Linked DNA regions of Homo sapiens. The protein of the gene in region 2 interacts with the protein of the main gene of each other region in a biochemical or structural test. Each region holds a gene or a part of one and is shown on either strand. Other genes may lie near its edges.

Region 1 (7,093 bases), on a different chromosome or scaffold from region 2:
CGGACTGGGCCATTTTTCTCTCCCTGACACCTCCCCAGTCAACAAACAGGGCCCCTCCAGAGTTTACCAAAACAAACACCCTGCCGTCGGGCAGCGCCCGCGCTAAAAGACGCCCTCGTCAGGCCCGAGCGGGACTCCAAGCCCAGCCTCCTGAGAGTCACATGACCCTGTTATTTCGGGAGGCCCCGGAATGTGCTCTATTTTGGGTCCCAAGGGCTCTGATGTTACCAGAAGCCCCTCACACAGGCTGCAAGCTCACCCAGGCCCCCAAGTGCCCCAACTCCAAGAGTGGTCAGCGGGCCTACAGCTTTGCCACCGGGTCTCTCCACAGGCGCATGGGGTCTGGTGTGGTCTGAGACCTTTGGACTCTGTGGACTCCGCCTGAGTCCCACCATTCAGGATAAGGCCAGCGGGGGCCTTCTCCCCGGCAGGCGTGGGAGCGCGGCCAGCCCCGGGCAGCAGGGCCAGGAAGCTGGGGCTGCCTCTGGCGAGTCCCTCGGCCTTGCTTTCCTTCCAGATCTGGACGCTGCACTCATCCCTGCCCTCACTGAGCGGCTCGGTGGACACCGACTGGGATCCTCTCCCTGCCCACCAAGCCCAGCGGTAGTGAATGCTGGGAGGAGGAAGCCCTCTCTACCCCAGACCCCAAAAGCGGCTGGGCAGCTGTAAGGGGTGGCCGAGTCTCCCCAGCAGCTCCAGGTCTGACCGGTCGGCCAGCCGGGCCAAGACAAGCCAGGCCCTCCACCACCACTCACCCCGAGGAGGGATTAGGCTGTGTTGACAAAAGGGCTTAGAAAAGTAGCCGCTTAAATGGACCTTCGACTGCTCTGGACTTCAGAGCTGGTCACAAGCTTAGAAAAAAAATAAAATGTAATCAGAGCCCAGGGCTCTCTGCTCAGCCCTGGGGCGTGGGCTGCCTGGGAGGCCATGGGCCGGTCGGGAGAGCTGCTGCTCGAGAACAGAAGACTCCTAGCTTCCTTGTGGCAGGGGAGTGCCCAGGGAGATCCCTGGGGCAGTGGCTCGGAGGCACGACCTCTCCTCCTCACAGGGACTCCAGCAAGCCACCATGGCGACTGGGCACCCCTTGCTCCCTCGCCCTACATCCACCAACTCCGTGGACTATCCCTGTCCCACCCGGAGCATTAGAAACAGGGACCTGTTCGGTTCTCAGTACTCAGCTGAAGTGCAACCAGCCAGGCCCCTGCCACGTCCAGGGGCCAGACACTGAGCTGAGCATTCTTGTTCCAGAGGAATCGTCTGGGAGAGCCTAGCTCTGTGTGTGTGGATGTGTGTGTGCACATGTGTGAGTGCAAAGCTTTAACAGGGAAAGGCAGCCCCAGCCCACTCCACACTGCACTCGGTCACAGACAGCGCAGCATTCCCTCCTGCCTCACACTCAGCAGTACCACGAGCTGGGGGTGCTAATCCCAAATCCACCACCTTGTATCCTGGGGGCTCAGCCTCTCCCAGCCAGTTTTCTCATCTGCAAAATGGGCATGAGCGCCCACCCCTGGAGGCTGAGCCCTGGAGCTCATTCAAGGCCTCGAGCCCACCACTCCATCATGACAGAGGCAGGGAGTAAGCGTTAGGTCTGACAAACCTGGAACCCACCGCCTGCCCCGGTCACGGGGCAGCACACCTGCCTGTGAGTAGCAGAGGTACTCAGACTCTCACCCTCACATCCAGGAGGGGCTAGGTCCATGCTGGCTCCCCTTGATGCCCCATCTCACTAAACATCCCTGCAGCTACATTGGCTTCTGAGCACCTCCTGGGGTGGCCAAGCTGCACCCCAGGCTGCAGGGAGGGTGGGCAGGAGGGGCTACGGATGGCGGGGGCTTCATTCATAATCAGCTGTTTCGATTTCCATTCAGCACAAATCCTTCACCCGGCCTGACAGCCTGGCTGCCGTCCCACCACCAAATTAATATCCTTCCCGGAGCTAATTTATAAAGTCTCCCCCTTCTCACTAGCTTCCAAACCCTTGGGAGGGCAATGGGTGGGGGCCCCAGCCATGCCCTCTCCCCCTTCTCGGTAGGTCTGGGCCTGGAGTTGGCGGGCAGTCTGGGATAGGAAGCTACCGGGCGGGATGGCAGGAGGAGGAGGGAAACTGACCCTACGCGCCTCTGCGCTGTCCTGCTCACAAATGGAGAGCCAGCCTGGGAGAACACCCGGGGGTGCCAGAGTGAGGGGCCCCATTTCTGGAATGGGGCCTTCCCAGGTCTGACGTTCTGTTCATACAGCCCCGGGGGACCCTGCCCACCCGGGCGTGGGCTGCTTTGGGGATAACAGGGTCCCAGTCTGTTTCCTGGGCGGACACACACCCAAGGGCCAGCGGCCTGCTAGAAGCCGCAGCCCGACGGGCGGGCGGCGCAGAGGCCGCTCGGGGCCCAGCGCGCCGTCCCGGTCCCCAGGCCAGGGAGGCCGGAGCCGCGGAGCGCAGAAGTTGCTCCTCCCGCTCCGGCCGGGTTCCTGTGCGGCGCGGCTGCAGCTGGGCGCCGGGGCGCAGGCGGCCGCCGGTGAGCGGGAGACCCCTCCTCGTCCCGGGCGAACCTGCCACCCGCCCCCCGGCCCCGCCGCCCGCCCGCTGCCCAGCCCCGCCCCGGCCCCGCGAAAAGTTGCCCCGGGTCGACCCTCCCCGGGCCCGGCGCCCGAACTCACGCGAAGGTCGGCGAGGGGTCCGAGCGGGGCCCGGGCCGGCGACCCCCCGCGCGCGCCGCCAACGCGCCCCCGGCCCCCTCCCGCCCGCCGGCCCCCGGCCCCCGGCCCCGTCCCCGCCCGGCCCGGCGAGCACTCACCGAGCGGCAGGAAATGTTTGGTGTCCATGTCTGCGACTAACTCATGCCCGGCCGGCGGCGCAGGCAGCGGGCGGCGGGCGCGGCGGCCCCCGGCGCGGCCGGCCCGGGCCCGGGCGGCGGGGAGCCGGCGGCTGCGGTGGCGGCGGCGGCGCGCGGAGGCCGCGGCGCGGCGAGTTGTTGCAAAAGTCGCCCAACAATGTAAACTACTTGTGTCTGCGCGCCGCCGCCGCGCGCGCCCGGCCCGCGCCCCCGCCGCCGCGCGCCCGCGCCCCGCTCCGACCGCGGCGCTGCGGCGCCGGCGGGGGGGTGGCGGGGGGCCCGCGACGGGCGCTGACTCGGCGCAGCGCCGCCGCCACCGCTCGGCCCGCGCCCCGCCCGCCCAGCCCCGCCCGGAGCGCGCCCCCCTCCGCCGCCGCCGCCCCGCGATCGCCGCCCGCCCGGCCGCCGAGTTGAGAGCGCCGTGCAAACTTGCGAGTTCGCCTCCGCCAGGGGTTCCCGGGAGCCGCGAGGAGGCGGCGTGGGAGGGGGCGGGGCGCAGAGGGAGCGGGGCGGGGGCGGGGGCGGGAGCAGAACTCCCTCCCCGGGCCCGCCACACACTCGCGCACACACACACTTGCGCGCAAGGGCCCGGAGGAGGCGGAGAGCCGGGCCGGGAGCCCAGCGGCCGGGCCATTGTCTGCGCGGCCACACAAAGCGGCCGGGCGGTGGCCGCGAGGGGACCCCGGCCCGGGCCAGGCAAGCGCAGAGCCGGGCGGGATGGCCGCGGCACCCATACCTCGCACCCCGCCGCGGCGGACACGTGGGGAAACTGAGGCCCGGGAGTGGCGATGTGCCCCAACGGCAGAGGACAAGCTCCTCGTCCGGGGAAGGTTTCGTCTTCCGGACGCTACCCCCGGTCCACCCCACACTTTCACGCCCTACCCCCACGGAGAGACCCACGAGCCCACCGGGAACGAGGAGGGGTGCGCGCTTCGCCTCCTCATCGACCCGCACTCCTGGGACCCCTCTTCAAAGGCACCAGGCTGGGCAGGCGCTGCCCGGAGTTGGACACAGACTTTGTGGCCGGTGGCTATTTTTATACCCTGGGTAGTTCTCTGCCTGACTTTTAAATTCACGATTTGTTTGAAAACGAAAGGAAGCACTCCTGCCCCGGGACAGCTCGGGCCGCCTCCGCCGCGCGCCGCCCGCCGCCCGCCGTCTCGGGCGGCTGGAATTCGGATTTGGGTGTGAGCTACCTGCGCGCCGCCAAGCCCAGCCTTCCTGAGCAGGCGCCGAGGCGCCCCGCCGCGCCCTCCCTCCGCACCCCCACCGCGAGCTTGCTGACCACCTAGACCTAAGGGCCCGGGCTGCGAGGCACAGGGACTGACCATTCACGCAGGCTGCGCGTGGTGGCCCGGGTCAGGGGACGCTAATGGGGAGGGAGGTGAGGAGGTGATGACCGCGTGTGGACAGCCATGACACGGCCCAAAGATAACAGCCCGAGACCAGAGAGGTGTCCTGCTGCCTGGGTGCCCCTCAAGTCGGGCCACCCGGAGCTGGGTTCCACGAGGGCTCCGGTGGCCTGTTCCGGTGGGAGGTCTTGGTTCCACTTGGGACAGAAGTGCCCTGGTTGGGCAGCCCACCCCCAGCACAGCCAGAGCCCAAGGCAGCCCTCTCCCCCTCCCCCTCTTCACTGACCCCTGGGCCCCTACCAAAGGCCACCCCGTCCCCCTATTCACACACCCTGTCCAACAGGCAGCCTGCCCCACTCCCTCCGGGATGAGGGCCACTGTTGACACCTGGTCCTCACCCACTGTGGTTACAGCCACAACAGACCCACTTCCCCACTGCACATGGCATGCCGGCCCAACCCACTGCCCTTCTAAAACTGAGTTCCTCCTGCCAGGGAGGGGGGCGGCAAACAAAGGATAGGACTGAGAAAGAGCCCCCGTAAGCACCAACATACACTGCAAAAGTGCCATGTGCCCGCCGCGTTCCAGGCCTGTCTCTGTGACTGCTTGGGCCCCTCCTGACTGTACTCAGGTTGGGGGGTTGGGGGGGAGTCCCAGATAGACAAGGCCTGGGCCAGATTGCAGGTCCACCTCCTACCAACCGTGTGGCCTAGCTGGGTCACTTCCCTCCTTGTATCTCAGTTTTCTCATCTGTAAAGTGGGAACAACCACTCCCTCCTCACTGAGTCACTGAGATGACTAAGTGAGATAATATGGAGAGTCTGCGCTCGGGAGGACGAGCTCGGTGTGACAGTTATTGTGATGATGATGATGATGAAATGACGCTGAATTAGGCAGGCCGTTCGCCTATGCTCAGTGCAGGGAGAGCAAGGCTCTATCCAGCCAAAGGGCTCAGGCAGCTTTTGGGATCACTGGTTCTTGAGTCAGGTTTTGGAGCAGGGAGGTTCCATCAGGCAGTGGCCGCCCAGGCAGCAGGGCCGGCTGAGCAGCGGCCTGCAGAGAGAAGGAGCAGCAGGCCGCGGACGGCAGGTCAGGACACGCCAGGCAATGGTGGGAAGGCTGGGCTGAAGTGTCTGAGGTCACCTCCCAATAGTGGGCGGTGTGGCATGCTGGACTCTCCACCCCACCCCCATCTCACTCCTTGTCCCTGAAAACTCAAGACTCAGGAGCTGTTGGTGCCTGGAGTCGGGGAGGCACATGCAGACAGATTTCCATGTGGGTTCCTCCTGGGAAGGCTGAAGGTTCCAGAAGGGCCCTCTGTTCCTAAGAAACACCGGAAGGCGTCATCCCCTGCTCTAGAGACCACGTGGAGAGCGCACGGAGTCCGGAGTCCTGCAGATCTGGGCTCACATCCAGCCTCTGTGCCCACAGACGGTGAATGGCTCTCAGCCCCGCCCTTCTCTTCCATGGGGCAGGGGCCTGGGTGCTCGGCCGCCGAAAACACACCAGGTCCTTGATGGAAAATGACGATGCCGCTTGTTATTTCTGTGGCCACTACTTTTTATCCTCCCCCTCAGTTTGGAGCTTTTTGGTGCAAATGATTCTACACGAAACCTCCCGGGATAGTGGCTGCCCCATATGAAATGGCCAGGTCTGAGCCAGCCATGGAAAAAAACACCCCAGCCTTCCCACCATGTGCTGCTACAGCCAAAACTATTTTTATAGTAGTATCCATTTATTCACAACCTGCGATCTAAGAAGGTTTTGTTTTTTTGTTTTTTTGTTTGGGTCTTTTTTTTTTTAATTTCCCTGAGGGACGCTTTTTAAGGTACTTTGGCCTATTTCATATGCCTGTCTCGGCTCAGTCTTGTAAACAGTCCCGGGAATTGCTTGTTGAATAATATTTTTAAAGGCTGGTCTCTGTGCTGGCTGAGCATGAGGAAGCTGGCGTCTGGGTGGACTGCTCCCAGAAGTTCCCAGGACACCAACGGGGCTCTAAGCTGCTTCCAGAGGTTCCCTGTGGTCCTGAGCTGGTCACTAGCAGGACCTCACAGGGGTTTGGGGAGCTCAGCCTCCAACAAGGGAGGCCAAGGGCTTGGGTACTGCTGGGCAAGGTGGCCCGATCTGTCCCCAAGCACCTCAGCCTAAGGGGACTCTCTCTCACATCCGTTGTGGCTCCTTTGGGGACAACACCTTTTGTCTGTGGTGACCGATGATGACTCGAGCTGGGAAGTAGAGCCGAAAGCTCAGAGAGGCAAGGGGCCACCCGGCAGGTCCACATGGAACTGGGACTAGGCCCAGGGGTCCCAGCCCGAACCCCCTTTCTCAGTCATAGCTTGTCTCTCCATCAGTCTAGAGGGAAACACTCAAGCCACTTGTCCACACCTGGGCTCCAGTCTGTTCTGCTGAGTGGAGAGGAAGAGAAAGGATAGGAGGGAGGGGAGAGGAGAGGACAGGAGGGGAGGAGGAGGAAGAGAAGAGGACCCCTCTGCTCCTGGGTCTGGCCCTCTGGCAAAATGTTTGCAGGCCTGCAGGGCAGTCACCACTGACAGCGTCTGCCCTGGTAGCAGTCAGCTGGCTGGCCCTGCACACCCCAAACCCAAAGCAGTGCAGGGGAAGAGAAAGGTGAGGTCCTCCGAAGGCCAGCCGCTGCCTCCGTCATCAGCTGGGGTCTTACTTCCAGAACTCTGGGGAGCTGAATGGTGGCGTGAGCCAAAGAGTTCAGGTGAGTGAGGCTTAAGGGGACAGGAGCTGGTTTGTAATGAAGAGCCAGGATTTCAGTGCAGCTCCAGGCAAGAGACAGTGGGTTCCCTCCAGGGGCCACCAAAGAGCCCCACCGAATCCCAGCGCCAGCCGCAAGGGGTCACAGATGCTCAAAGAAGGGCAGGAACAGTTCTGAGAGTCCGG
Region 2 (3,957 bases):
ATTAGTCCTGCAACTTATAGGGTTTCCAGAGTTATTGGGTAAACTACAGTTTATTTCCCTCTTGGAGTGTTATAATTCACTAGTAAAAGTATTTCTCTTCCAACTTCTTAGAGATCCAGCAGTGAGGTCATCTACCCTGGTTAACCACATTCATCCTTGGAGAAACACTTTATATTAAGCTTGTTTCTTATCTATGAAATGAGTGGTTTAGATCAACTTCATCTCTAGAGTACCTGTTTTCTATTTCTTTTCAGATTTTATAGATCCTGATACTTAACTTTTTTTTTTTTTTTCTGTCCCTTTATATAGAATTCTAGATGAGCTTTCCCATACAACTGTGCTTCAGGAAATCTTAAGTTTGTTTAGGTTTCCTAGTCATTCTAGGAAATTGGATATACTTCATTGTTGTGCATTATAAAATGATTAGATTAAAAAAAAAGCTTTTCCTTAAGAGAGACAGACACTGAAGAATGATGCGTATGTATGAAGGGATGGATTGATGAGGAATGTTACATGTTCAGCAAACTATTTCAGGGAGGCATATCCTTGGTTAAGTTAAAAAGTGTAAGTTCACATTTACTGAGCATCATTTACACTGTGTTGCACAAAGTTTTATTACAGAGGTATGATAAAACTTAGTGTTAATATGGCTTATTGCATGAATTTTGATGCATAGATAGATGTTCCCCAATAATTACTATTATAAAATGATTCTGTATCACAATGTAGCAGTAAATACTTTTTTTGCTTTATTATTTTATTATTTGCATTATTTTGCTCCTTAATGCAAAATAACTTTTTAAGATAACCTGTGTGAGTTTTGAACCTAAGACCGTATCTTTTGTTTGGCAGCCTTTTTTCCACTAATAGACACTTTATGGAATTAGCTGCAAGAAAGGCTCTTAGAAACCATTTAGTCCAACAGCCTCATGTTACAGATGAAAATACTGAGGCTCTGTGACAGAAAGTCACCTTTTTTTCCTCTACTAACTCTAGACTTACTCCTTTGGGGAAAAAAAACAAAAACAAAAACCTGTCTTGAGGTATGAATGATCCCTTTCCTTTTTAGTACAAGAAAATATATTTAAAATCCAGTTCAAAATAATATCTCCTTTTAGGTTATTAACATAACAATAGGGCTTTGTGTATATACTGCCAGAGTTAAGAGTTAAATATTAACCTGTTAAATTCCTGTTCAGGTTTACTTTTGGACATCAAGCCCATCACTGCCAGCCAGTGAAGAAGGATTCCAGCCTATGCCCTCAATCACAATAAGACCACCAGATGACCAACATCTTCCTACTGCAAATACTTGCATTTCTCGACTTTACGTCCCACTCTATTCCTCTAAACAGATTCTCAAACAGAAATTGTTACTCGCCATTAAGACCAAGAATTTTGGTTTTGTGTAGAGTATAAAAAGTGTGTATTGCTGTGTAATATTACTAGCAAATTTTGTAGATTTTTTTCCATTTGTCTATAAAAGTTTATGGAAGTTAATGCTGTCATACCCCCCTGGTGGTACCTTAAAGAGATAAAATGCAGACATTCCTTGCTGAGTTTATAGCTTAAAGGCCTAAGGAGCACTAGCAACATTTGGCTATATTGGTTTGCTAGTCACCAACTTCTGGGTCTAACCCCAGCCAAAGATGACAGCAGAACAACATAATTTACACTGTGATTTATCTTTTTGCTGAGGGGGAAAAAATGTAAATGTTCTGAAAATTCACTGCTGCCTTTGTGGAAACTGTTTCAGCAAAGGTTCTTGTATAGAGGGAATAGGGAATTTCAAAATAAAAAATTAAGTATGTTCTGTGTTTTCATTTTAACTTTTTTTATGGTGTTTAATTTGTGGTTGGCTGCAACTGTGTATCATGTATATGGAACTTGTAAAAAAGTTCTCGACATTCAGATCTTAAGAGATGAAATCACTTTTACCTATAAAAACCACTTTTATTGCGGTTTGACTGCATTGAGCTCTAGGATATTAAATGATATCACTAATATTTTGCATGTAATTTGCTCATTTGAGTGAGGGCACTTTTTTTGTACATATGATGGGGCCAATGCACAATACTTTTATCACAATCAACTTTTTCTTTGTATCCCTATTTCAATGAGCAGTCAGTCTCAAGAGGTTACTGCACTTCAGTTCTAACTAGACATTTGTACTAAGGTATTTCAGTTATGTAAACTCAGCCTGGGCACTTTCTGATAACTGTAAAATGTTTTATAAGATCATGATTATTGAAGATACATTTTGGAAAATTTTAAATGTTCGTGAGCAGCTTAACTACTTTTGTATCTAGCCTTTTTTAAGTATCTTGTTACATTTACTTTTTTAAATAAAGAAATTACAGAAGAAATGTCAAGTAATATTGAAGAAACAATAGTTTTTATTTATGTAGTTGTACATTTTTAAACTAAGGGCAATACACTGACATGGTTATGTGCATAAAAATTTTGACTTAAAGAACTGGAAGTTTATATACACCTGGACTATAAGAAACAGAAGAAAATCAGTCCACATTTTACAGTTAGCAGAGAATCCTAAATGGCACTGGCCTGGCCACCTTTTCATTTTACAAATGGGGGAAGTGAAGTGTGACCCCTTACTTGGCATAGGAAGTTAACTTACACCTAATAACTGACAGGTTTTTGTTTTGATGACCTATTAATTATGTAGCCTAGGATTAATATCCCAAAATTACTCTGGTTTAAGTAGCTTTATTCAGTGGCATAATAACACTGTTTTCTTCCTTAAGTCTTCAATGAAGTGACTTAAAACAGTCACTTTACATATTAAAAATGAGGAGAGCAATTCTCTGGAATCTCTCCTTTCAGTTCCTTTGTAGGATTTCTGGCCTTGAGGATAGTCTTCATGTTCAAAGGCACTATGCTTTTATTATATAACTTCCTTCAGAAGACTGAACCACATGATATTCTCAGCCCTGTTAACACTAAAAATATTTAAAACTGAATGATAGTAGTGACTCATTGTATTACTTAAAACTTATATAACACGCTGTATTAGATGTGTGTAAATTAGCCAAAGGTTATTTTACAAAGTGAGACATTGGTTTTTATGTCTAAATGCTATTTCTGAATAAATGAAATAGTAATTAGATCAAGAGCTGATTAGCATCAATGTGTTTGAAAGATATAAAATTTATACATCACCTTAACCTCTGTATGCACATGATGGGATTGATAAAATATTAAATGAGAACAAACTAGATATGATTAGGACATTTGAAACCCTAATTGTGAATTTATTTTTAATAGTTACTGAAATGAAAATATTTAAAATAATGCACAATGTCTTAAGTCTTCCTAAATCAAGATTTTGGTTAAAAAATACTTCTAATAATAGTAAAAGATTTTTTTTTTAAGTAAATCATAAAACGGTTCTAAATGTAAAATAAAGACATGTAAAATAAAGTTCTCTTTTGGTCTTGTTTAGTGTTTAAATCTAACAATTGAAAACAAATTTAGGAAGAGAAGACCAAGAATGAACTTTACTGAGTGTTTTCAGAGTTTGCTACTACTATTTTTTTCCCTAAATCATCTGGATACCAAGACTATCCAGTAAAATGGATAACTGGGGCAGACTTGAGAGGGTATTTTAAAGGAATGATTTCACTATTTAGTAGCTGCCCCCAAACAACATCCCTCCCATAAAGATACTATTTTTACATTTTAAAGGTAGTCAGCAATTCCTATGTTTAAACTCAAGTTGAGATAATCCCTTGAGGCAGTAGTTTCCATGCTTCTGTATGTTGTAAGATTCATTTGTAAAGTTTGTTAATGCAGATTCTTAAGCATTCCTCATCCTCTTGCCTCCTTTCTGATTCAGTAAGTCTTTGGTGGAGGCCAGGAATCTTCATGCAGATCATCCCAGGTGATTCTGAAACACTGCCCAAAGAATATTTCCTTTTTATTTACAAATATAAATGT

What was found.
Region 1: the proteins of UBR5 (region 2) and RXRA form a complex in vitro, tested with the Homo sapiens proteins (one study listed by BioGRID).

The regions. Positions count from the first base shown.
Region 1 is NC_000009.12:134,322,362-134,329,454, reverse strand, and holds the start of RXRA (retinoic acid receptor RXR-alpha), read right to left. Parts: upstream 3,001-7,093; 5' UTR 2,824-3,000; coding exon 2,796-2,823; intron 1-2,795. UniProt on the Homo sapiens protein: Receptor for retinoic acid that acts as a transcription factor.
Region 2 is NC_000008.11:102,251,757-102,255,713, reverse strand, and holds the end of UBR5 (E3 ubiquitin-protein ligase UBR5), read left to right. Parts: intron 1-1,199; coding exon 1,200-1,412; 3' UTR 1,413-3,441; downstream 3,442-3,957. UniProt on the Homo sapiens protein: E3 ubiquitin-protein ligase involved in different protein quality control pathways in the cytoplasm and nucleus. Mainly acts as a ubiquitin chain elongator that extends pre-ubiquitinated substrates.